4 linked regions of the Homo sapiens genome follow. The protein of the gene in region 1 purifies or fractionates together with the protein of each later gene. This does not show direct contact. Each region holds a gene or a part of one and is shown on either strand. Other genes may lie near its edges.

What was found.
Region 2: the proteins of RAB31 (region 1) and GDI2 purify together in Homo sapiens (affinity purification with mass spectrometry; 4 studies listed by BioGRID and IntAct, with this or other methods). This does not show direct contact.
Region 3: the proteins of RAB31 (region 1) and CHM purify together in Homo sapiens (affinity purification with mass spectrometry; 4 studies listed by BioGRID and IntAct, with this or other methods). This does not show direct contact.
Region 4: the proteins of RAB31 (region 1) and RAP1GDS1 purify together in Homo sapiens (affinity purification with mass spectrometry; 3 studies listed by BioGRID and IntAct, with this or other methods). This does not show direct contact.

The regions. Positions count from the first base shown.
Region 1 is NC_000018.10:9,713,530-9,719,280, reverse strand, and holds part of RAB31 (ras-related protein Rab-31), read right to left. Parts: intron 3,021-5,751; exon of another isoform or gene 2,925-3,020; intron 1-2,924. UniProt on the Homo sapiens protein: The small GTPases Rab are key regulators of intracellular membrane trafficking, from the formation of transport vesicles to their fusion with membranes.
Region 2 is NC_000010.11:5,784,545-5,790,295, forward strand, and holds part of GDI2 (rab GDP dissociation inhibitor beta), read right to left. Parts: intron 1,507-5,751; coding exon 1,308-1,506; intron 730-1,307; coding exon 598-729; intron 1-597. UniProt on the Homo sapiens protein: GDP-dissociation inhibitor preventing the GDP to GTP exchange of most Rab proteins. By keeping these small GTPases in their inactive GDP-bound form regulates intracellular membrane trafficking.
Region 3 is NC_000023.11:85,951,672-85,957,422, forward strand, and holds part of CHM (rab proteins geranylgeranyltransferase component A 1), read right to left. Parts: intron 4,708-5,751; coding exon 4,482-4,707; intron 1-4,481. UniProt on the Homo sapiens protein: Substrate-binding subunit of the Rab geranylgeranyltransferase (GGTase) complex.
Region 4 is NC_000004.12:98,420,557-98,426,307, reverse strand, and holds part of RAP1GDS1 (rap1 GTPase-GDP dissociation stimulator 1), read right to left. Parts: intron 5,054-5,751; coding exon 4,914-5,053; intron 1-4,913. UniProt on the Homo sapiens protein: Acts as a GEF (guanine nucleotide exchange factor) for the Rho family of small GTP-binding proteins (G proteins) that stimulates the dissociation of GDP to enable subsequent binding of GTP.

The sequences.
Region 1 (5,751 bases):
TTTTTTTTTTTGAGACAGAGTCTTGCTCTGTCACCCGGGCTGGAGTACAGTGGCACAATCTCGGCTCCCTGCAACCTCCACCTCCTAGGTTCAAGTGATTCTCATGCTCCAGCCTCCCTAGTAGCTGGGATTATAGGCGCACGCCACCACGCTCAGCTAATTTTTGTATTTTTAGCAGAGAGGGGGTTTCACCATGTTGGCCAGGCTGGTCTCGAACTCCTGACCTCAAGTGAGCCACCATCCTTGGCTTCCCAAAGTGCTGGGATTACAGGCGTGAGTCACCATGCCTGGCCTTCAAATTGTAATTAGCATGCATCACTTTATGTTATGGTCTGAATATTTGTGATCCCCAAAATTTGTATGTTGAAATCCTGACCTCCAAAGTGACAATACTAGGAGGTAGAGCCTTTGGAAGGTGATTAGGTCAGAAGGCTAGAGCTCTCATGAATGGGATTAGTGCCCTTATGGAAGAGGCCCCAGGGAGCTCCCTTACCCAATGGGAAGACTCAGTCTGCAACCCCTTAGAGAGCCCTCACCAGAACCTGCCCGTATTGGCACCCTGATGGTGGACTTTCAGCCTCCAGAACTGAAGGAAATACATTTCTGTTGTTTTTCAGCCCCCAGTCTATGGTGCTTTACTATAACAGCCCAAAAAGACTAAACTACTTGATAATTTAAAAAATTAGCTCTTTAGAAGTTTATTATGAAAGTTCAGAAAATAAGGCTGGTTGCAGTGGCTCATGCCTGTAATCCCAGCACTTTGGGAGGCCGAGGCAGGTGGGTCACCTGAGGTCAAGAGTTCAAGACCAGCCTGACCAACATAGTGAAACCCCATCTCTACTAAAAATACAAAATTAGCCAGGCATGGTGGCGCATGCCTGTAATCCCAGCTACTTGGGAGGCTGACGCAAGAGAACTGCTTGAACCCAGGAGGCAGAGGCTGCAGTGAGTCGAGATCACACCACTGCACTCCAGCCTTGGTAACAAAAGCAAAACTCCATCTCAAACAAACAAACAAAAAAATTCAGAAAATATTTTAGCTGCTAAAATGAAGTATAAATTAACTACGTAGTATTGATGCCATGAGATGAACTTTAAAAAACACTTTCTAATCCCAGCACTTTGGGAGGCTGAGGCAGGTGGATCACTTGAGCCCAGGAGTTCAAGACCAGCCTGGGCAACGTGGCAAGCCCCATCTCTACAAAAGAAACCAAAAAAATTATCCAAGTGTGGTGGTGGGCACCTATAGTCCCAGCTACTCGGGAGGCTGAGGTAGAAGCATTGCTTGAACCCGGGAGGTCAAGGCTGCAGTGAGCTGTGATTGCACCACTGCACTCCAGCCTGGGCAAGACCCGGTCTCAAAAAAAGTAAATAAAATAAATAAAAAGTAAATAAATAAAACTTTCTTAATTAACCTTGCCATAAATGTAAATGCCCTGGCCAATAATCTGATTATTTAAAAAACAAACAAACACACAAGAACACCTTGCTCTTTCTCCTTGCCAGCAGTGGGCAAATTTTATGTGATACTCCACATACTGTGTGTACGTGTGTCTGTGTGTGTACGTGCGTGTCTCTCTGTCTTTCTTCTTCTCTTCTCCTCTTTCTCTCTTCTTCTCTCCACTTTCTCCCTCTGTCCTTCCCTCCCAGAGCGACACATTATATTTGCAGATCCTAGTTAGGAAAGTGATTCCATGAAGGCAGAGAGTAGTCCTGGAGAATGCAGGTATCCTTTTCTTCAAAAAAAAATACATTGATAGAAAGGCATCTAGCTCTCTGTGACATCCTGTTCAAAGAAGAGAAAATAGAAGGGAAATGACCTCCCTGTGTTCTGTTTGCTGTCCTGCAGGCCCCTTCAATTTTCTGATAACTCGAGTCTCCTAGGCACCTCTGGGGGAACTGAAAGTAGCCTAAGATATCTTCTGGGTTAAATATGGTGCAAACAGAAGCCACATTCATGACTTCTAGAGAATTCAAGCAGGTCTGAGACATCTAAACCAAGGAAATGTATTCGAAAAAAACTCATCAAAAGATCCCACAGTGAAAAACCCATTTGGTGACCTGATGTTAAATCCGACTTTTCGGAAGCAGGAGGATCACTTGAGACTGGGAGGTTGAGGCTGCAGTGAGCTGTGATCGCACCATTGCACTCCAGCCTGGATGACAGAGTAAGACCCTGTCTCAAAAAACAAAAAAACAAAAAAGAAGCCCACTTTTTGGCTGGGCAAAGTGACTCACACCTGTAATCCCAATATTTTTGGGGAGGCTGAAGTGGGAGGATCGCTTGAGCCCATGAATTCAAGACTAGCCTGGACAACACAGCAAGACCCCATCTCTACCAAAAAAAAAAGAAAGAAAGAAAGAAAGAAAATTAGCCAAGTGTGGTGGCACGCCTGTAGTCCCAGCTACTCAGGAAGCTGAGGCAGGAGGATCACTTGAGCCCAGGAGTTCGAGGCTATAATGAGTTATGATCACACCACTGCATTCCAGCCTGGGTGACAGAGCAAGACTCCGTCTCAAATAAAAATTCCATTTTTCTTTTCCTCATTTCTGCTGACAAAGTTAGGTAACAAAAAAGACCACTCTGGCTCCTCAGGACATACTCTCCTCTCCACAGCTCAGCAGCTTACCACAGGAGGAAGCTGTAGGACCAGCGTCAATCCCCGGGTAAATAAGAGGCAGACGCCTCCATCCTGGGCTCTGAAGACACTGAGCACACTCAATTGTCACCCCCGCCAGCCCACTCCCACCTCTTGCCTTCTTTTCCCATAAAGCACATACCACCTCCTAACAGACCATATGATTTATTTTCCCTACCTTCCTGCTAAAATGTAGGCTCCAAGAGGTCAAAGTTCTGTGTCAGACACACCACTGCCTGACACTTGCAGAAGCTAAGAAATTTTTTTAAATAAATGCCACAGAGATAAGTGGGAAAGAGTATTTTAATATTATACATGATCACGTTAAAAAATAAGACCACTCGAGATCGCCTGCGTTGTATTCTCACCCAAACAATGAACCTGAAAGAAGTAATGAGGAAACAATCAGACACTTCCAGATCTTGGGACCGCCTACAAGACAACTGGCCTGGCTTCTTCAAAAATGCCAGAGTCATGGGGAAAAAAGAAGGGGAACTGTTTTAGATGCACAGTGACTAAAGAGACAGGACAACCAAATGAAATACATGATCTCTAACTGGACCCTTTAAATAGCTGGAAAGGACATTTGGGGGCAACTGGAAACATCTGAACATGGACCATATGTTTGATACCCTGTGTTCATGTTCAATTTAGGGGATGGGAGCATAGTATTGTGGTTACATAGGAGAATGCCCTTTTTCCTAAAAGACACATACTGAAGTATTTGTGGGTAAAGTGCCACCATGTCTGCAACTTACTTTTAAATGGTTCAAAAAAAAATGTTTAGTATTATTTATAAACAGAAAGACAGGCTGGGCACAGTGGCTCACGCCTGTAATCCCAACACTTTGGGAGGTCAAGGCAGGCAGATTGCTTGAGGCCAGGAGTTCGAGACCAGCCGGCCAACGTGGTGAAACGCCATCTCTACTAAAAAAAATACAAAAATTAGCTGGGCATGGTGTTGCACACTTGTGATTTCAGCTACTCAGGAGACTGAGGCAAGAGAATCGCTTGAACCCAGGAGGTGGAGGTTGCAGTGAGCCGAGATTGTGCCACTGCACCCCAGGCTGGTTGACAGAGCGAGACTCCATGTCAAAAAAAAAAAAAAAAAAAGAGAGAGAGAGAGACAAAGGACAAGTGACAAAATGTTACTCCTGCTGAATCTAGGGGACATTCATAGTCCTTTCAACTGCTGTGTAAGTTTTAAATTTTTCAAAAAAAAAAAAAGGGGGCAAAGGGAATTAAAAATAAAAGACCCAGTGCTAGAGAGACAGGGAGTAGGGGGTGTCAATGGAAGAGTGGGCAGGCTGGGAGGGGAGGGACTGTGCCAGAAAATACAGTGAGATCCAAGCCCCCTGCCAGGGCCTGGAGTGCACACCCACCTTTCCTTCCCTGTCCCTTTAGGCACTGTTCAAATCCTTCCTACTCCAAGAAACCTTCCCAACTCCCCACTTCACAGCCCCCGCTGTATTTGACTCCCACCATATCCCACTATACATGCAACACCTCCTGCCTCACACCCATCAGCAAGGGCCGTGTTCCTGTGCGTGTGGCACAGGAACCAACCAGAAGCCTCTCCATCCCAGGCAGGGACCAGATCCCTGCCTGACCTACTTTCTGTCTCTAGCAGAGTTAGCACAGCACTGTGCGACAGCAGGTACCCAAGACAGACCTGGAGCAAGAACTTTCTGTCCCTCCCATGCCGTCAAGTCTACTAAGCGGGATGACAGTCAGTATTTCTCATCATCACAACACACTACTTCTGTTCCGCATGGTGGGCCATGGTAAGCACCATAATAAGAATCCAGTCAATGCCACAGAGCTCACTGCTGGTGTGTTCGTGTCTTTGGGAAGGCAACAATCACTGCCATCCTGTCTACATGCAGCCACCCACAGCTCCCAGCATAAAAGAAACACTCCACAAATGGTGAATGGCTGAATGAATGAATACCTATTCCATTTTCAAACACATGTCATAAGTGATAAAAACTAAGATAAATGAAAGTGTAAAATCTGCACAGGCATGCAAACACCAAATAAGCGTTATCTACCAGGCTTAATTAAATTTTAAAGGTCTTTTCCAATTAGTGAACTCAAAAGCTTTTGCGTTCTAGCACAGAGGTCCCCAACCCCTGGGGCGGTACTGACCCATGGCTTGTTAGGAACCAGGTTGCACAGCAGGAGGTGAACAGTGAGTGAGCATTACCAGCTGAGCTCTGCCTCCTGTCAAATCAATGGTGACATTAGATTCTCACAGGAGTGCAAACCCTGTTGTGAACTGCGCATGTGAGGGATCTAAGTTGCATGCTCCTCATGAGAATCTAACTAATGCCTGATGATCTGACGTGGAACAGTTTCATCCTAAAACCATCCCCCGCCTCCTGCTCCCATCTGTGGAAAAATCGTCTTCCACAAAACTGATCCCTAGTGCCAAAAAGGTTGGGGACCACTGTCCTAGCATCTTAAAATGTAAAGTTTCCTATTTTCTCATGGCTGTGGCCTTAGAGCAGACCTAAAGGATATATCACACTCACTAAAACAGTGTCATTGGGCCAGGGCAAAAGTAGAGGCCACATGCCTGAACACTATTGACAAGGTACTATGGAATTAATATTTGTGTCCCTCCAACAAAATTCCCATTTTGAAGCCTAACCTCCAATGTGAGGATATTAGGAGGTGGGCCTTTGGGAGGTGCTTAGGTTGTGAGGGTAGAGCCTTCATGAATGGGGTTGGCGTCCTTATAAGAAGAGAAAGAGACCGAGCACTCTCTCAGTCATGTGAAGTTACAGCAAGAAGGCAGCTGTCTGCAAACCAGAAATCGAGCCCTCACCAGGCACTAGATCTGCCAGCGCCTTGGTCTTAGACTTCCCAACCTCCAGAACTGTGAGAATTAAATGTCTATTGTTTAAGCCCTCCAGCCTATGGTATTTTTGTGACAGCAGCTCAAATTAAGACATAAGGGATGGGGGAAGGGACCATGAGAAGCTTGAAAATGCTCCTCAAATGATTCTGATACACACTCCAGAGATGCACTGAGCTCTGAAAGCTGAGGGAGGATGAAAGCAGCAATGCTGACCCTGAACAAAGGAGGAACAAAGGGACCCTGATGGAT
Region 2 (5,751 bases), on another chromosome or scaffold:
TGGATAGACTATGTCAGAGGGAAGATCTGGAACTCAAGGGCTGCTGTTCAGATTCTTTTGTCCCACAGGGATGCTCCCTTGATGTGGTGCTCTCCCCTTTCCCCTAGGGATGGGGCTTCCTGAGAGCCAAACTGCAGTGATTGTTATTTCTCTTCTTGATCTAGCCGCCCAGTGGAGATAATCAGGCTCTAAGCTGGTACTGGAGAGTGTCTGCAAAGAGTCCTGTGATGTGATCTGTCTCCAGGTCTCTCAGGCGTGGATACCAGCACTTACTCTGGTGGAGGTAACAGGGGTGTGAAGTAGATTCTGTGAAGGTCCTTGGTTGTATTTTTGTTAAGTGCGCTGGTTTTGTATTGGCTGGCCTCCAGCCAGGAGTTGGCACTTACAAGAGCACATCAGCTACAGTTGTATAAAACTGGATTTTTTTTAACTGAAGATCCATGCATATCATTATATGTTAATTTTATTTCAATAAAAATAAAAAGCATCTTATTACTCATAGACTGATCTCATCTCATTATTTAAACTATATCTCATATACACATTATGTTGAAGATGAGGTTTTGGATCACTGAGGTTTTAAACACAGGCTCTTACCTTGCAAATCCTTGGGGCAGTTCTCCAAGGCCATAGAGTGGATAAAGGTATGGGCTTTTGCCATATCTTGCCAAAGATTCACTGTAAAGTTTAATTCTATTAATGGTTTCATAACACGGTTGATCTAAGTAACTGGAAGAAAGGAAATGAGTATTAGGAAAGGGCTTTAGTTTTCATTCATGGTGTTCAATTTATAATTTTTTTTGAAGCGATTTCAATCCGCTATCTTCTTTTTTGTTTTTTTGTTTTTTGAGACAGGGTCTCACTCTGTCGCCCAGACTGGAGTGCAGTGGTGCAATCTCGGCTCCCCACAACTTCCACCTCCCAGGCTCAAGTGATTCTTCTGCCTCAGCCTCCCAAGTGGCTGGAATTACAGGGACGCACCACTACCGCCCAACTAATTTTTGCATTTTTAGTAGAGAGGGGGTTTCACCATGTTGGCCAGGCTGGTCTTGAACTCCTGACCTCAAATGATCCACCCAACTTGGCCTCCCAAAGTGCTGGGATCACAGGCGTGAGCCACCACACCTGGCCCACTACCTTTATATTTAAATCACTTAAAAGGTCCCAACACTAATTTCAACTAGAACCTCTTCATTCATAGTGCAATATGGCTAAGTATTTGTTTTGTTAGAATTTCCACTTGGAAGACTTGGGAAATTTAGTGAGAATTTCAAGAAAAATACAAATCTAAAAACCAAAATACTTACTCATCAGTTCTGTAAAGTGCAAGAGCATGACCAGTAAAATCTATAACGTCTTGACCCAAATCAAATTTCTTATACACATCTCGCATTGTGGTCTTCTTAGGATCAATGCCTTCAAAAGTTCTTGGATCTTTTTCATCGAAGTTGGCAACATACACTAGGAATTTCCTGAAGCGACGTTTTTCAAACAATCCCATTAGGCCTAAATAAAAAAGAATTTTTCAAAAAGCACACTCACAATCAGACATTGAGGAGAACGAAGTATGAGAGCAAAGTTTAAACATGCCTTGTTATCAACTGCGGAATGCAGGATGCAATTTTTTTTTTTTTTTTTTTTTTTGAGACAGAGTCTTGCTCTGTCGCCTAGACTGGAGTGCAATGACGCAATCTCAGCTCACTGCAACCTCTGCCTCCCGTGTTCAAGCGATTCTCCTGTCTCAGCCTCCCGAGTAGCTGGGATTATAGGCAACCGCCATTACGCCCAGCTAATTTTTGTACTTTTGGTAGAAACAAGGTTTCACCATGTTAGGCTGGTCTCAAACTCCTGACCTCAGGTGATCCGCCCACCACGGCCTCCCAAAGTGCTGAGATTACAGGCATGAGCCACCGCGCCTAAAATGCAGGATGCAATTTAAGATATGGGAGTTTGGACAGCATGGCTTCCAGTTTCACAACACCTTAAACTGACACGATTATAACAGGTTACTTATAAAGTCTTCAATTCTACCATACAATTACAAGTAATTAAAACTACTACTTAACTGAATGAAAAATGTCAAATTATGTTTCTTACTAGGTACAAGGTAAATGTGACTCTGAACAAGTATCCATGAAGCCACCCATCTGAAGAGTCTCCCTTTGACAACTCTGATCTACACTCAGCCAATTGCCTAAATTCTGAATGCTCTTGCTTTTCCGCCTCTGTATGCTAAGATACAACCGGGCACTTAATGATAACAGCTTAAGATAACAAGAACAAATTGACCTCGATAAAATTTCGATGCTGCTGCTACTGCTGCTAGTCACTTATTTTACTGAAGTCCTACATAAGCAACCAATTCGCTGCATTTTACACTAAAAAACAGATGAAGAAGCTACAAATTACCACTTTATAAATCCTCAGCTTTTATTACTAGGCTGTATTTCAACTAATCATAGATGATAGACAAATAGCCAACAAAAAAGAAAATTTTCTGATTTTATCTCCCTTCTCCCCCCATTCCTAAGCTGTACAGCTATTTTTAAAATACAACTACAGTTTTAAAAACAAACTCTCAAATGTTTCTATTGACAGCTTAATGTTTTGATAGATTTAATATTACATCCAAGATCATTTTCCAGCCAACAAAACTGAAAATTAAAACCATGAGGCTGGTCAGGTCGTAGTGGCTCACGCCTATAATCCCAGCACTTTGGAAGGCTGAGGAGGGTGGATCGCTTGAGGTCAGGAGTTCAAGACCAGCCTGACCAACATGGTGAAACCCCATCTCTACTAAAAATACAAAATTAGCTGGGTGTGGTGGCGCACGCCTGTAATCCCAACTACTTGGAAGGCTGGAGCAGGAGAATCGCTTGATAAACCCAGGAGTCAGAGATTGCACTGAGCCGAGATTGCACCATTGTACTCCAGCCTGGGCAACAAGAGTGAGACTCCGTCTCAAAAAAAAAAAAGAAACATGAGGCTATTAATGACAACTGACTACATTTAATTTTTTAAAATTAAGATTTACAATTCAGCCTTTTAAATGGACAGAATGTACACACAGTAAAGGCATAAGGCTGAATAGAAATATCCTATTACCACATCAGCACTATACTTAAGACACAAGTGTAGTTGTAAGAGCTGGGTATAAGACAGGCAAAAGGAAACATGAATCACTATTTCAATGCACTTAAAACTTAGGTATCATATTCCGGTCGGCACAGCCTGTCAGAACTTAAAGCTATTACTAACAGTTATTTTGGAGTATCTCCCAACTTTTGTTTATTTAATAGAAACCTGAGTTGCTGTTACCAACTTTTGTTTTAATCAAAATAAAAATCTATCATGTTTCCTTCTCTTTCCTCTCCTTTATTTTCCTCCATTACCTGATCCTTACCCAGAGAGGGATAGAAATCAGTGCCACTCCTGTTTTACACAGCACAGTAGAGACGTCCTGGCTGTTTTTCCATCCCTTAATTCCATGTTGCTATGCATGGCGCCAAATAGTGATCTCAATGACTAGCTGTTAACAGCATGAGAACCAGATATAATTGTATTACAAATACTTCAAACACCCAGTGCTCATTCTGAAAAACTCCTAATTGAAAAAGTTCAAATCAATAACGTGTTTCCTACTGTGTTTTTTTTTTTTCCATAGAAACAAGGTCTCGCCATGTTGCCCAGGCTGGTCTCAAACTCCCAGGCTCCTAAAGTGTGGAATCACAGGTGTGAGCCACTGCACCTAGTCCCTACTAGGTAGATAATTTTTTACAACTACTATTTATCTATGCTGATGCCTTCCCAGATCACTTTATTTAAAGCGTCCTTCTCACACTCCCTCCTTCCTCTTTCCCCCACAGCAATGGATCACCATGGGATATGCCTTTCTGTATTTACAGTTGTCCCTTGAATAACACATCTGAACTGCCACTTTTTATGTAGATCAGAGGTGTCCAATTTTTTGGCTTCCCTGGGCCACGTTGGAAGAAAAAGAATTGCCTTGGGCCACACATAAAATACACTAACGATAGCTAATGAGCTTTAAAAAAATTGTGAAAAAAAATCTCATGTTTTAAGAAAGTTAACAAATTTCTGTTGGGCTGCATTCAAAGCTACCCTGGACCACATGCAGCCCATAGGCCACAGACAGGACAAGCTTGATGTAGATTTTTTCTTGTCAATAAATGTACTGAAAAAATTTTTGGAGGTTTGCATGTTTTTTTTTTTTTAAAAGGAGTCTCACTCTGTCGCCCAGGCTAGAGTGCGCAGTGGCGCGATTTCGGCTCACTGCAACCTCTGCCCCTGAGGTTCAAGCAATACTCCCACCTAAGCATCCCGAGTAGCTAGGATTAAAGGCATGCACCATCAGACCTGGCTAATTTTTTTTTGTATTTTTAGTAGAGATGGGGTTTCACCATGTTGGACAGGCTGGTGTCAAACTCCTGACCTCAAGTGATCCGCCTGCCTCAGCCTCCCAAAGTGCTGGGATGACAGGCATGAGCCACTATGCCCAGCCAGGTTTGTTTTTTCTTTCAGTTCTACGTTTTATTTTACTTGATTTTTTTTTTTTCCTTTTTGAGATGAGATCTCTGTCACCCAGACTAGAGTGCAGTGGCGCAACCACAGCTCACTGCAGCCACCAACTTCCTGGGCTCAAGCAATCTTCCTGCATCAGCCTCCTGAGTAGCTGGGACTACAGGGTATTCAGCTAATTTTTCTTCTATTTCTTGTAGATACAGGGGTCTTACTATGTTGCCCAGGCTGATCTCGAACTCTCGGGCTCAAGTGATCCACCCACCTCAACCTCCCAAAGTGCTAGGATTACAGCCATGAGCCACAGTAGCCGGCCAAATGATTTTTTTTTTAAGAGATAGGGTCTTGCTATATAAGGATATATCGTCCAGGCTAGAGGTGCAGTGACTATTCCCAGGTGTGAACATAGCACAGTACAGCCTCAAATGCCTGGGTTCAAGCAATCCTCCTGCCTTGGCCTACCAAGTGGCTAGGATTACAGGTGCACAGCAACATGCCCAGCAGATTTGTGACAATTTGAAAAAACTTGCAGATGAACCGCATAGCCTAGAAATACCAAAAAAATTAGAAAAAAGTTATGTATGTCATGAATGCTAAAATATATGTAGATATTATTTACTATCATAAATATATGCAATTCTATTTCAAAGTTAAAATTTAATCACAAAACTTAGGCACACAAACACAGACCATACACGGTGCCACTGTAAACAAAGAAAGATGTAGTATTAAGTCTTAACTGCGTAAGATTAACTGCAGTACATACTGTACTACTGTAATAACTCTGGAGCCACCTTTTGTTGCTAATGTGGTGAGCTCAAGTGTTTGAATATCTTAAAACTCTATGTGACAATAATCATCTCTGCATGAGCAGTTCACCTCTCCAGTAAATTATCTGTCACAGTAAAAAGTGATCTCTCCTTGTTCTCACATATTTTTCATCGTGTTTAGTGCAACACCATAAACACTGAGTAAAACGTAGGACCCACAGGGAATGCCACTGATGCTGGAAGTGCTCCCAAGAAGCAAAGTCATGACATTACAAGAAAAAGTTGAATTCCTTGAAACGTACCAACTGACTTCAGGTCTGCGGCTGCAGTTGCCCGCCATTTCAGACAGACAATTCATCTCATACACATACAACCTAAACTTTTGGTACCAATAAGTCCAGTATGGTACTGTAAATGTACTTTCTCTTCCTTATCATCTTCT
Region 3 (5,751 bases), on another chromosome or scaffold:
CAAATAGATGCCTCTAGTGATCATCCCTCCCACAGGAATGCGGAATTTTAACAACTAACTACACACAAAAAAAGAACCATCATAAGAAGCAAAAATCAGGTAAGCAATCACAGTACCAGGCTGCAACTTCCTATCACTGAAGGAGGCACTGAAGACAGTCTTGAATGGTCAATGCCAACCCTCCCCAATTCCACGGCAGTGGCCACATGGTGTGGAAAGAGAAATCTATGCATTTGAGGGAGTGAGAGCATAGCAACTGGGGGATGTAGCATTGAACTTGGTGCTGCCCTGTCAGTGGAGAGCAAAGCTATGCTAGGCTCAGGTGGCACTGAGAGAACATTTGGACCAGCCCTAGCAAGAAAGGAATGGCCCATCCCAGCAGCTGGAACTCGAGTGTCTCAGCAAGCCTTGTCACAATGGGCTAAAGTGCTCTGGAGTTCTAGGTAAACTTGAAAGGCAATCTAGGACACAAGGACTGTAATTCCCAGGCAAGTGCTAATGCTAGGCTGGGCTTAGAGCCCATGGACTAGGGCAGCACATGACCTAGGGAGAAACAGCCTGGGCAGCTAAGGGAGTGCTTGTGCCACCCCTCCCCAAACCCTAGGCCATGCAGCTCACAGCAACGAAGGTGTCTAATTCCTTCTGCTTGAGAAGAGGAGAGCAAAGAGTAAAAGGACTTTGTCTTTCATCTTGGATAGCAGCTCAGCCACAATAAGATAGGACACCAGGCAGAGTCATGAGGCCACCATTCTAGACCCTAACTCCCAGAAAACATTTCTAGACATACCATGGACGATAAGGGAACCCATTGCCTTCAAAGGAAGGACCCAATCCTGGCAGGGCTCATCACTTGCTAGTTAAAAGCCCTTGGCTACAAAATAATCAACAGTAATACCCAGGTAGTATGCCGTGAGCCTTGGGTGAGATTCTGAGACATGCTGGCTTCAGGTGAGACCCAGTACATTCCCAGCTGTGGTATCTATGGCAAAAGACTTCTGTTTGAGAAAAGCAGAGAGAAAAGTAAAGGGGACTTTGTGTTGTGTGTTAAACACCAACTCAGACACAGGGGTGCAGAGCACCAAGCAGGCTCTTGGGAACTCAAGTCGAGGCCTAGGCTCTTAGAAAGCCTTTCTGGACCTACCCTCGGCCAGAGGGGAGCCCACTGCCATGAAGGGTAAGGCCCAGGCCTGGAAGCATTCAACACAAGCTTACTGAAGGGTACTTGGGGTTTAAGTGAACATCAGGGGTGGCCTGGCAGAACTCCCAGTTGACCAGTGGCTGTGGTGGCCACTGGGAGAGGCTGAGAGAAGTCAAATTATCCTTGTTTGCAGATGATATAATTTTATATTTGGAGAATCCTAAAGACCCCATCAAAAACCTATTAGACTGACAAATTTAGTAAAGTTGCAGGGTATAAAATCAACATACAAAATTAATAGCATTTCTATATGTCAACACTGAAGAATCCAAAAGAGAAATTTTAAAAAGTAATCTCAATTAGAATACCCACAAATGCAATTAAATACCTAGGAATTAGCTTAATCAAAGAAGTGTACGATTCCTACAATGAAATCTATAAAACACTGATGAAAGATATTGAAGAGGACACAAAGAAATGGAAAACTATTCCATGTTCATGAACTGGAAGAATCAATATTGTTAAAATGTCCATACTATGCTAAGCAATCTACAGATTTAATGCAATCTATATCAAAATATCTATGGCATTCTTCAGAGAAATAAAAAAAATCCTAAAATGTATATAGAGACACAAAAGACCCAGAATAGCCAAAGCTATCCTGAGCAAAAATAATAAAACTGGAGGAATCACATTACCTTATTTCAAATTATACTACAGAACTATAGTCACCAAAACAGCATGGTACTGGCATAAAAACAGACACATAAACCAAAAAAACAGAATAGAGAACCCAGAAACAAATCCACACACCTACAGTGAACTCATTTTTGACAAAGGTGCCAAGAATATACACTGGGTAAAAGACAGTCTTTTCCATAAAGGGTGTTGGGGTAACTGGATATCTGTATGCAGAAAAATGAAACTAGACCCCTATCTTTTGCAGTATATAAAAAGCAAATCAAAATGGATTAAAGAATTAAATCTAATGCCTCAAACTTTGAAACTACTACAAGAAAACATCGGAGAAAACCTCCAAGACACTGGTCTGGGCAAAGATTTCTTAAGCAATGCCCCACAAGCACAGGCGACTAAAGCAAAAATGGACAAACGGGAACACATGAAGTTAAAAAGTTTCTGCACAGCAAAAGAAACCATAAACAAAGTGAAAAGACAACCCACAGAATGAAAGAGAATATCTGCAAACTACCCGTCTAACAAGGAATTAATGACCAGAATATATAAGTAGCTCAAACAACTCTACAGGAAAAAAATCTAATGATATGACTAAAAATTGGGCAAAAGATCTGAATAGACATTTTTCAAAAGAAGACATACAAATGACAAGGAGACATATAAAAAGGTGTTCAACATCACTGATCATCAGAGAAATGCACATCAAAATTACAATGAGATATTTTATTACCCCAGTTAAAATAACTTTTATTCAAAAGAAAGACACTAGCAAATGCTGGCAAAGATACGGAGAAAAGGGAACCCTTGAACACTGTGGGTGGGAGTGTTAATTAGTACAACCACTGTGGAGAACAGTTTGGAAGTTCCTCAGAAAAGTAAAAATAGAGCTACCATACGATCTAGCAATCCCACTGCTAGGTATATACCCAAAAGAAAGGAAATCAGTGTATCAAAGGGATATCTACATACCACATTTGTCGCAGCACTGTTCACAATAACCAAGATTTGGAAGCAACCTAAGTGCCCAGCAACAGATAAATGGATAAAGAAAATGTAGTACAGTTACACCTTGGAGTAATACTCAGCCATAAAAAGAACGAGATCCTGGCTGGGCATGGTGGCTCACGCCTGTAATACCAGCACTTTGGGAGGCTGAGATGGGTGGATCACAAAGTCGGGAGTTCAAGACTAGCCTGGCCAAGATGCTGAAACTCCATCACTACTAAAAATACAAAAATTAGCCAGGTGTGGTGGCACGTGCCTGTAATCCCAGCTACTCAGGAGACTGAGGCAGGAGAATCACTTGAACCTGGGTGGCAGAGGTTGCAGTGAGCCGAGATCACACCACTGCACTCCACCCTGGGTGACAGAGCAAGACTCCATCTCCCAAAAAAAAAAAAACAAAAGAATGAGACCCTGACATTTGCAACAACATGACAACATGGATGAAACTGGAGGTCATTATATTAAGTGAAATAAGCCAGCCACAGAAAGACAAACAATGCATATCCTCACTTACTTGCGGGAGCTAAAAATTAAAACAATTAAACATATGGAGACAGAGAGTAAAAGGATGGTTATCAGAGCCTGGGGCGGGTTTTGAGGGGGCAGCGGATAAGTAGGAATGGTTAATAGGTACAAAACGTAGTTAGAAAGAATGAATAAAATCTAGTGTTTGATATTACAACAGAGTGACTACAGTCAATAATGATTTAATTGTACATGTTAAAATGAAGAGTATAATTGGATTGTTTTCAACACAAAGGATAAATGTGTGAAGGGATGGATACTCCATTTACCATGATGGATTACACTTTGCATGCCTGTATTAAACTATCTCATGTACCCCACAAACACATATGCCTCCTATGTACCCACAAAAAATAAAAATTTTTAAAAATGTGTAAAACAAACAAAAAAAGACACAAACAAGTATTCCCTGAAGATAAAACATGAATGGCCAGTAAACATATGAGAAAAGGTTCAACTTCATAGGTAATTAGGGAAATGAAAAATAAAAATCCAATGCAATGATAATTTATGTGAGTTAGGTTGACAAAAAAATTTTAAATGTTGGCAAACATGTAAAGCTTTGGGTATTCTTATGTACGGCTAAAAGGTTATAATTGGTACAGCCCTCTAGAGAAATAACTGAACACGATGTTGTAAAGTGTTAACATTCATGTATCTCAGGACTGGGGAATTCCACCCCTAGATATGTTTCCGAGAGAAATTCTTGAACATACACAACTTGAAACATACACAAGGGTGTTAACCTCAAAAAACTGGAAACATCCTGTGTTCATCAACAGAAAAATGAAAAAATAGATTGTGGTGTATTCACAATAACATACTATATAGTAATAAAAAATTAACTAAAATTATATGCAATGACAATACTTTCCATCATGCTATTGAGTGGAAAAAGGAATTTATAGTATTTTTATCAAGCTCAAAAAGAGGCCACACTGAATATATCACTTAGGTGGGTAGATAGGTAGGTAAATAGATTATAAAAAATAAATAGAATAAAGTATATATTTGCATATACTAAATCTTGAATAAATCTCATTTTTGCCTGCCTAATTTTCATCTGTTATTCAAGTATCACTTTTAGAAGGGACAAGAAAATCAATGGCAAACTTACCTGCAGAAACACTGGGGGAGTTCTCCTTGGCCATATAAAGGAAACAAAAATGGAGTGTTGCCATACCGCCCAAGACAGTGAAGAAAGTTTTTGGTAGCTTTGAGACCATCTATGGTGCTGCTGGCTGTCTCTGATGTCATTGCAATTGAATGCATGACAATATATTGGAGGTTGGGGGTTAATTTTTGAGTCTTTAAATATTCATAAAATGTGATCTCTTCATATCCTATGAAAAGATGAAATTTTATCACTTAAAATCAGAACTAAACTTCTATTTAAAACCACCCCACAAAAAGGAGATGAAGTGTGTTTCACAGACCTCACAAAGGACATAGGTGGTATTACATTTTGGACACTGATGGTTGATCTTAGGAAAAAATGGAAACAATCTCTCTCTCTTATTTGGAGTAATGGCACAATTTTTAGCTTTAAATGATGAATTATGATTGAGCATTTCATGGATTTAAAAAAAACTAGAAAATATTAAATAACTCAATGGGTTGTCATAGTTGGCAATAATCTCACTTTATTATCATGAAACCTGCAGGATAATGCCAATAATGGTACTGAAAATATTAAACAACTATGACAACATGGGAATGTATTGATTTAAAATGATAAATATGTGAGTTTTGTAAAACGTATACTTCTCACTGATACTCAGAAAATAAACTAAAAAATAATGAAATGAATTTCCATGTGGCTACTGGAATCAGTCTTATGGCCACATAATCACATCAAAACATACGGGACCCCCAGAAGTTACTCCTTTAAACCAAGAACAGAATATAATGTAATTGGACTGTTAGTGGTGGGAAATAAATCCCATGATAAAAGACAAAAACTTTACAGAAATAATTTACATAAATAAAAATTATGAAAATTTACTGAGAGAATTGAATTTTACACAGCCACTGTGGATAACAACATGACAGTACCTAGTAGACTTGAAGCTTTAAGAGCAAGGATTAGACTTTCATTATTTCACAGAGGAAAAAAAATATCGCTGCACTTCTCATTGTAACTTTATAAATAAATTATCAATAGTATATTCCAATTTTGGATAACATTTTCAGACCAATGGACTTAAAGTATATAGCTCTGACACTAAAATGGCATATTCAATTTTTAACAGACAATGAAGTAACTGGCCCCAGATCACATAATGAAATAGGTCAAAGCCAAGAATAGAAACCATGCCTTTTCTGAATCCAGTATTTTTCCCCATATACCATCTAGCCTTTTTTTTTCAAACGAAATAGTTCAAGAT
Region 4 (5,751 bases), on another chromosome or scaffold:
AAATGTGACCTTAGATTGTCTCTTTGTGCTCTTTCAGACTTTTTGAAATGCCTATTTCAGGCTATAAACTTTCCTCTTAGCAACGCCTTTGTTGTATCCCAGAGGTATTGATAGGTTGTATCATTTATTGTTCAGTTCAAAGAATTTTTAAATTCCCATCTTGATTTTGTTATTGACCCAGTGATCATTCAGGAGCAGGTTATTTAATTTCCATGTATTTGCATGGCTTTGAAGGTTCCTTTTGGAGTTGATTTCCAGTTTTATTCCACTGTGGTTTGAGAGAGTACTTGCCATAATTTCAATTTTCTTAAAATTTATTGAGGCTTGTTTTGTGGTCTATTATATGGTCTATCTTGGAGAAAAGTTCCATTTGCTAATGAATAGAATGTATATTTTGCAGTTTTGGGTAGAATGTTCTGTAAATATCTGTTAAGTCCATTTGTTCTAGGGTATAGTTTAAATCCATTGTTTCTTTGTTGACTTTCTGTCTTGATAACCTCTTTAATGCTGTCAGTGGAGTATTGAAGTCTCCCACTATTGTGTTACTGTCTATCTTGTTTCTTAGGTCTATTGGCAATTGTTTTATAAATTTGGAAGCTCCAGTGTTTGGTGCATATATATTCAGGATTGTGATATTTTCCTGTTGGACAAGGCCTTTTATCATTATATAATGTCCCTCTGTCTTTTTGAACTGCTGTTTCTTTAAAGTTTGTTTTGCCTGATACAAGATAGCTATTCCTGCTGACTTTTGGTATCCATTTACATAGAATGTCTTTTTCCACCCCTCTACCTTAAGTGAGTCCTTATGTGTTGGGTAAGTCTCTTAAAGGCAGCAGATAGTTAATGAATTCTTATCTATTCTGCAATTCTGTATCTTTTAGTGGAACATTTAGGCCATTTACATTCAATCTTAGTATTGAGATGTGAGGTACTATTCCATTCATCATGCTATCTGTTGCCTGTATACCCCCCACTTTTTTTTTAATTGTATTTTTGTTTTGTAGGTCCTGTGAGATTTATTCTTTAAAGAGGTTCTGTTTTGATGTGTTTCCAGGATTTAAGATTTAGGGCTCCTTTTGGCAGCTCTTGTAGTGCTGGCTTGGTAGTGGTGAATTCTCTCAGTATTTGTTTGTCTGAAACACACTGTATCTTTCCTTCATTTATGAAGCTTAGTTTCACTGGATACAGAATTCTTGGCTGATAATTGCTTTCTTTAAGGAGACTGAAGATAGGGCCCCAATCCTTTCTAGCTTGTAGGGGTTCTGCTGAGAAATCCACTGTTAAGTTGATAGGTTTTCCTTTATAGGTTACCTCGTGCTTTTGCTTCACAGCTCTGAAGATTCTTTCCTTTGTCTTAACTTTAGATAACCTGATGACAATATGCCTAGGCAATGATCTTTTTGCAATGAATTTCCCAGGTATTCTTTGAGCTTCTTGTATTTGGACGTCTAGGTCTCTAGCAAGACTGGAGAAGTCTTCCTTGATTATTCTCCCAAATATGTTTTCCAAAAGTTTTCTTTGTTTTTTTTTTTTTTTTGGAGACAGAGTCTTGGGAGTCTTGCTCTGTCACCCAGGATGGAGTGCAGTGGCACGATCTTGGCTCACTGCAACCTCCGCTTCCCAGGTTCAAGCAATTCTCCTGCCTCAGCCTCCCCAGTAGCTGGGATTACAGGCGCACGCCACCATGCCTGGCTAATTTTTGCATTTTTAGTAGAGATGGGGTTTCACCATGTTGGCCAGGCTGGTCTGGAACTCCTGACCACAATGATCCACCTACCTTGGCCTCCCAAAGTACTGGGATTACAGGCGTGAGCCACCGCACTCAGCTGGTTTTCTAAACTTTTAGATTTCTCTTCTTCTTCAAATGCCACAGGTGTTTGAGTTTTTTTTGTGATTTTTGTTTTTTTAAGCTCATCAGCTATTGTTAGTGTTAGTGCATTTTATGTGTGGCCCAAGACAATTCGTTTTCCAATATGGCCCAGGGAAATCCAAATGATTGTATACCCCTGCAAACCAATGGTGGAGATTCTCTTGGAGTAGAGCAAAAAGATTAAGGGTAATGACTCCAAAGAGCATGGGCGAGTGGGCAAGTTTAGGGAGTGTTAGCTGCACCTCTTCCTATAGTGTTTTATTTTGTTGAATGGCATGATAACCCAATCTGGTGGTAAACCCCAAACTTGGAATTAGCTCTAAAACTACCTCCTCCTTTAATTCTACTGTTGAATCTGTCAATTCTACCACCCATATTTTTCTCAGGTCTGTCTCTTCTTTTCCATCCTCGCTGCTTCTAGTTGAATAACCCATATGAAATTTGTTTCAAAAATGGCTGAATATCAGCAATTTCAAATTGCTCAACTCAAAACCTTAATTCAGTCCTTTATCAACTCTCATATATATTTTTGCAATAACTGTCCTTTCTACCCCCATTAAACCCTAGAGACATCTTTCTAAATGAAAACTAAATGGCTGGGTGTGGTGGCTCACGCTTGTAATCCCAACACTTTGGGAGGCCGAGGTAGGCGGATCACCTGAGGTCGGCAGTTTGAGACCAGCCTGACCAAAATGGAGAAACCCCGTCTCTACTAAAAATACAAAATTAGCCGGGCATGGTGGTGCACGCCTGTGATCCTAGCTACTCAGGAGGCTGAGGCAGGAGAATCACTTGATCCCGGGAGGCGGAGGTTACAGTGAGTGGAGATCGCACCATTGCATTCCAGCCCGGGCAACAAGAGCGAAACTCTGTCTCAAAAAAACCCCGAAAAAACAAAAAAACAAAAAATAAAGAAAACAAAAAAACCCTCAAATAATGGCAACTTGCTGCTTAAAACCCTTTAAGTGCTCCCGAATTCTCTACAGAATCAAGTCCATATATCTTAACTTGGTATATAATTCACTTAATTCCCAGTTTTCAACCTCTCTGGCTACTGTCTCTTTCTACACTCTGTGTTCTAGCAATACTGCTTTATTTGCAGTTTCTTTAAAAAATTATGCTGTTTTACATCTCTGTGCTTTTGTACATCCTGCTGTCTTTGCCTGAAAAGGCCCTTTCCTTCATTCTCTTTCCCTTTCCTCCTGAGATTCCTAGTTAACGCCTAAAATAGCACTCCTTCTATGGCACCATCCCAGATTACCCAGACAGTGTGTTAGTCTTTCTTTCCTCTGTTACACCCGAATAGCATACGTAGCTTTAAAGCTGTACTTAAGCTAGCTGTTTTTATTTCTGTCCCCTCAACGGATAGTTAATTCCTTTATAGAAACACTATTTTTTAGTATTTACACTGCAAGAACTCAAATATTAACTGTTAAATGAACAAATGGGCGTGAGAGAGCAGTTATGATGGAGAAGGGGTCAAAGGGGTACCAAGGAAGCCATTTTGCTATTCTCTCCTGACAACTTCCACCTTGCCAACATACTGCTTGGTCCTGTGTCAGGAAAAATGTATGAGCTTTTAGGGTGGTCTGGGTGAGACAGGTAATAGGAAGGTCCTAGTTAACAGCTGCTTTTCCCCAGGGAAAGTTCTCAAGATTTAGCATCTGATGGAGAAGAACACTCCTGAGGCTTACCAGCTGGGACAGCTATTATGGTGAAGCCAATTATTTATATGAAAGAGATTTATACAAGAACAGCTTTAGTTTTACGTTTTTTCTCTTGGCATCTTCTTCTTATCTGTTCTAAAAATAAATGAAAACAGCTGGTGGATTTGAGTTCTAAACTTTCTCCTCATATATAATCACTACTGAAGTTGTACAAGAGAAATGACTGAAAGGGTCACCTTAGAAAACAGTATTAAAGGCTGGGCATGGTGGCTCATGCCTGTAATCCCAGCACTTTGGGAGGCCAAGGTGGGAGGATCATGAGGTCAGGAGTTTGAGGCCAGCCTGGCCAACATGGTGAAACCCCATCTCTACTAAAAATACAAAAATTAGCCGAGTGTGGTGGCGCCTGCCTGTAATCCCAGCTACTCTGGAGGCTGAGGCAGGAGAATTGCTTGAACCCAGGAGGTGGAGGTTGCAATGAGCTGAGATTGTGCCACTGTACTCCAGCCTGAGCGAGAGAGCAAGACTCAGTCTCAAAAAAGAAAAAGAAAACAGTATTTTATTTTATTTTGAGACGGAGTCTTGCTCTGTCACCCAGGCTGGAGTGCAGTGGTGCAATCTCGGCTCTCTGCAAGCTCCGCCTCCCGGGTTCACGCCATTCTCCTGCCTCAGCCTCCCGAGTAGCTGGGACTACAGGTGCCCGCCACCACGCCCAGCTAATTTTTTTTTGTATTTTTAGTAGACCCGGGGTTTCACTATGTTATCCAGGATGGTCTTGATCTCCTGACCTCATGATCTGCCCACCTCAGTCTCCCAAAGTGCTGGGATTACAGGTGTCAGCCACCACGCCCAACAAGAAAACAGTATTTAAAAAATTTAAAAATCATATAATCTAGATACTAAATCAGCTGCTGAACTGCTGGCCTGGGTACTCACTATTGTGATCTTTAAAATAGCTCATTTGTTCATTTATTGGTTATCTACCATGTGCCAGACAGCGGCACAGCCAGCCACAAGAATGGATTTTTTTCTAACTCTGTGAGCTCTGGACATCATATACTATCTAGGTACCATTTAATTTCTAAATATCAGTAGGCTGCATGGTCAATGCCTGGCACAAAGAATGTTTGACACTGATGCTGATAACGGTGGTGGTAAAAGTAATAACAACAATAGCAGCAGCAACAACAGCAACCCCCATTTACCGAGTGTTTCCTATATCCCATGTATCAGCTAAGCACATTATATACATGATCTCACTGAATCTTCACAATACTTTCAGGTAAATATTATCCCAGTTGTTAGGACCTACAATGCTGGGTTTCTGAAAAAGACACTCTGAAGTTTTCTAGTGAACAGTTTCCTCTGGAACTTACTTTTGATTTACTGTGTCGTATAAGGGCAGACAGCAGTCTGTTTGACTCCCCCATCACACCAGCATGATCTTTGGCTTCACACCATTCCACCAAACGCTCCACTAACTTAACATTCTTTCCCAATTGTTCAGCAGCTTCTGCTATAGGAAAGAAGGCAAACCAAGGAATGAATCACTAACAGACAATCAGTTGAAATAATTCGTACAGATTTGAGAGTGTGAAGGACGTCTAAAAAAACACAGCACGACAATTTCATTAAAGCTAGAACTGCAAATATTCCTTATGTGATGGGCTATTTGCCTTCTTCTGTAACACTGTGAAATTTTATAGAAAATACAACAACAAATGACTTCATACTCTTTTGGTTAAGCCTGCTAGTCTGTTAGTGCTCTGGCGGACTATAATGCAGGGTTCTTAGAAAGACTCTATGCAATCAATATAGAAAAGGGTTTAAAATTTAGAAATAAGTAAATAAACATAATTCATTCCTAGGAGTGGTTCTGACTGCTGTTTCTGCAAACAGAAAAATGCTCTCCCTGTCTGGAAGACAAATTTAAAAAATTTTTGACTGTCACAATAATGAAATTTGATTTCAAAGCCAAGGTAAAAATGGGTATAGAATGCCAAAACACAACACCCCCTGCCGAAACTGATGAATAAAGCAACCTAAAACCAGGACTATAAGTACTAATAAGGAGAGATATGGTATAATTTCTATTTAAAGTCAATTATAGGCTGGACATGGTGGCTCACACCTGTAATCCCAGCACTTTGGGAGGCTGAAGTGGGTGGATCGCTTGAGGCCAGGAGTTCAAGAGCAGCCTGAGCAACAAGCCCC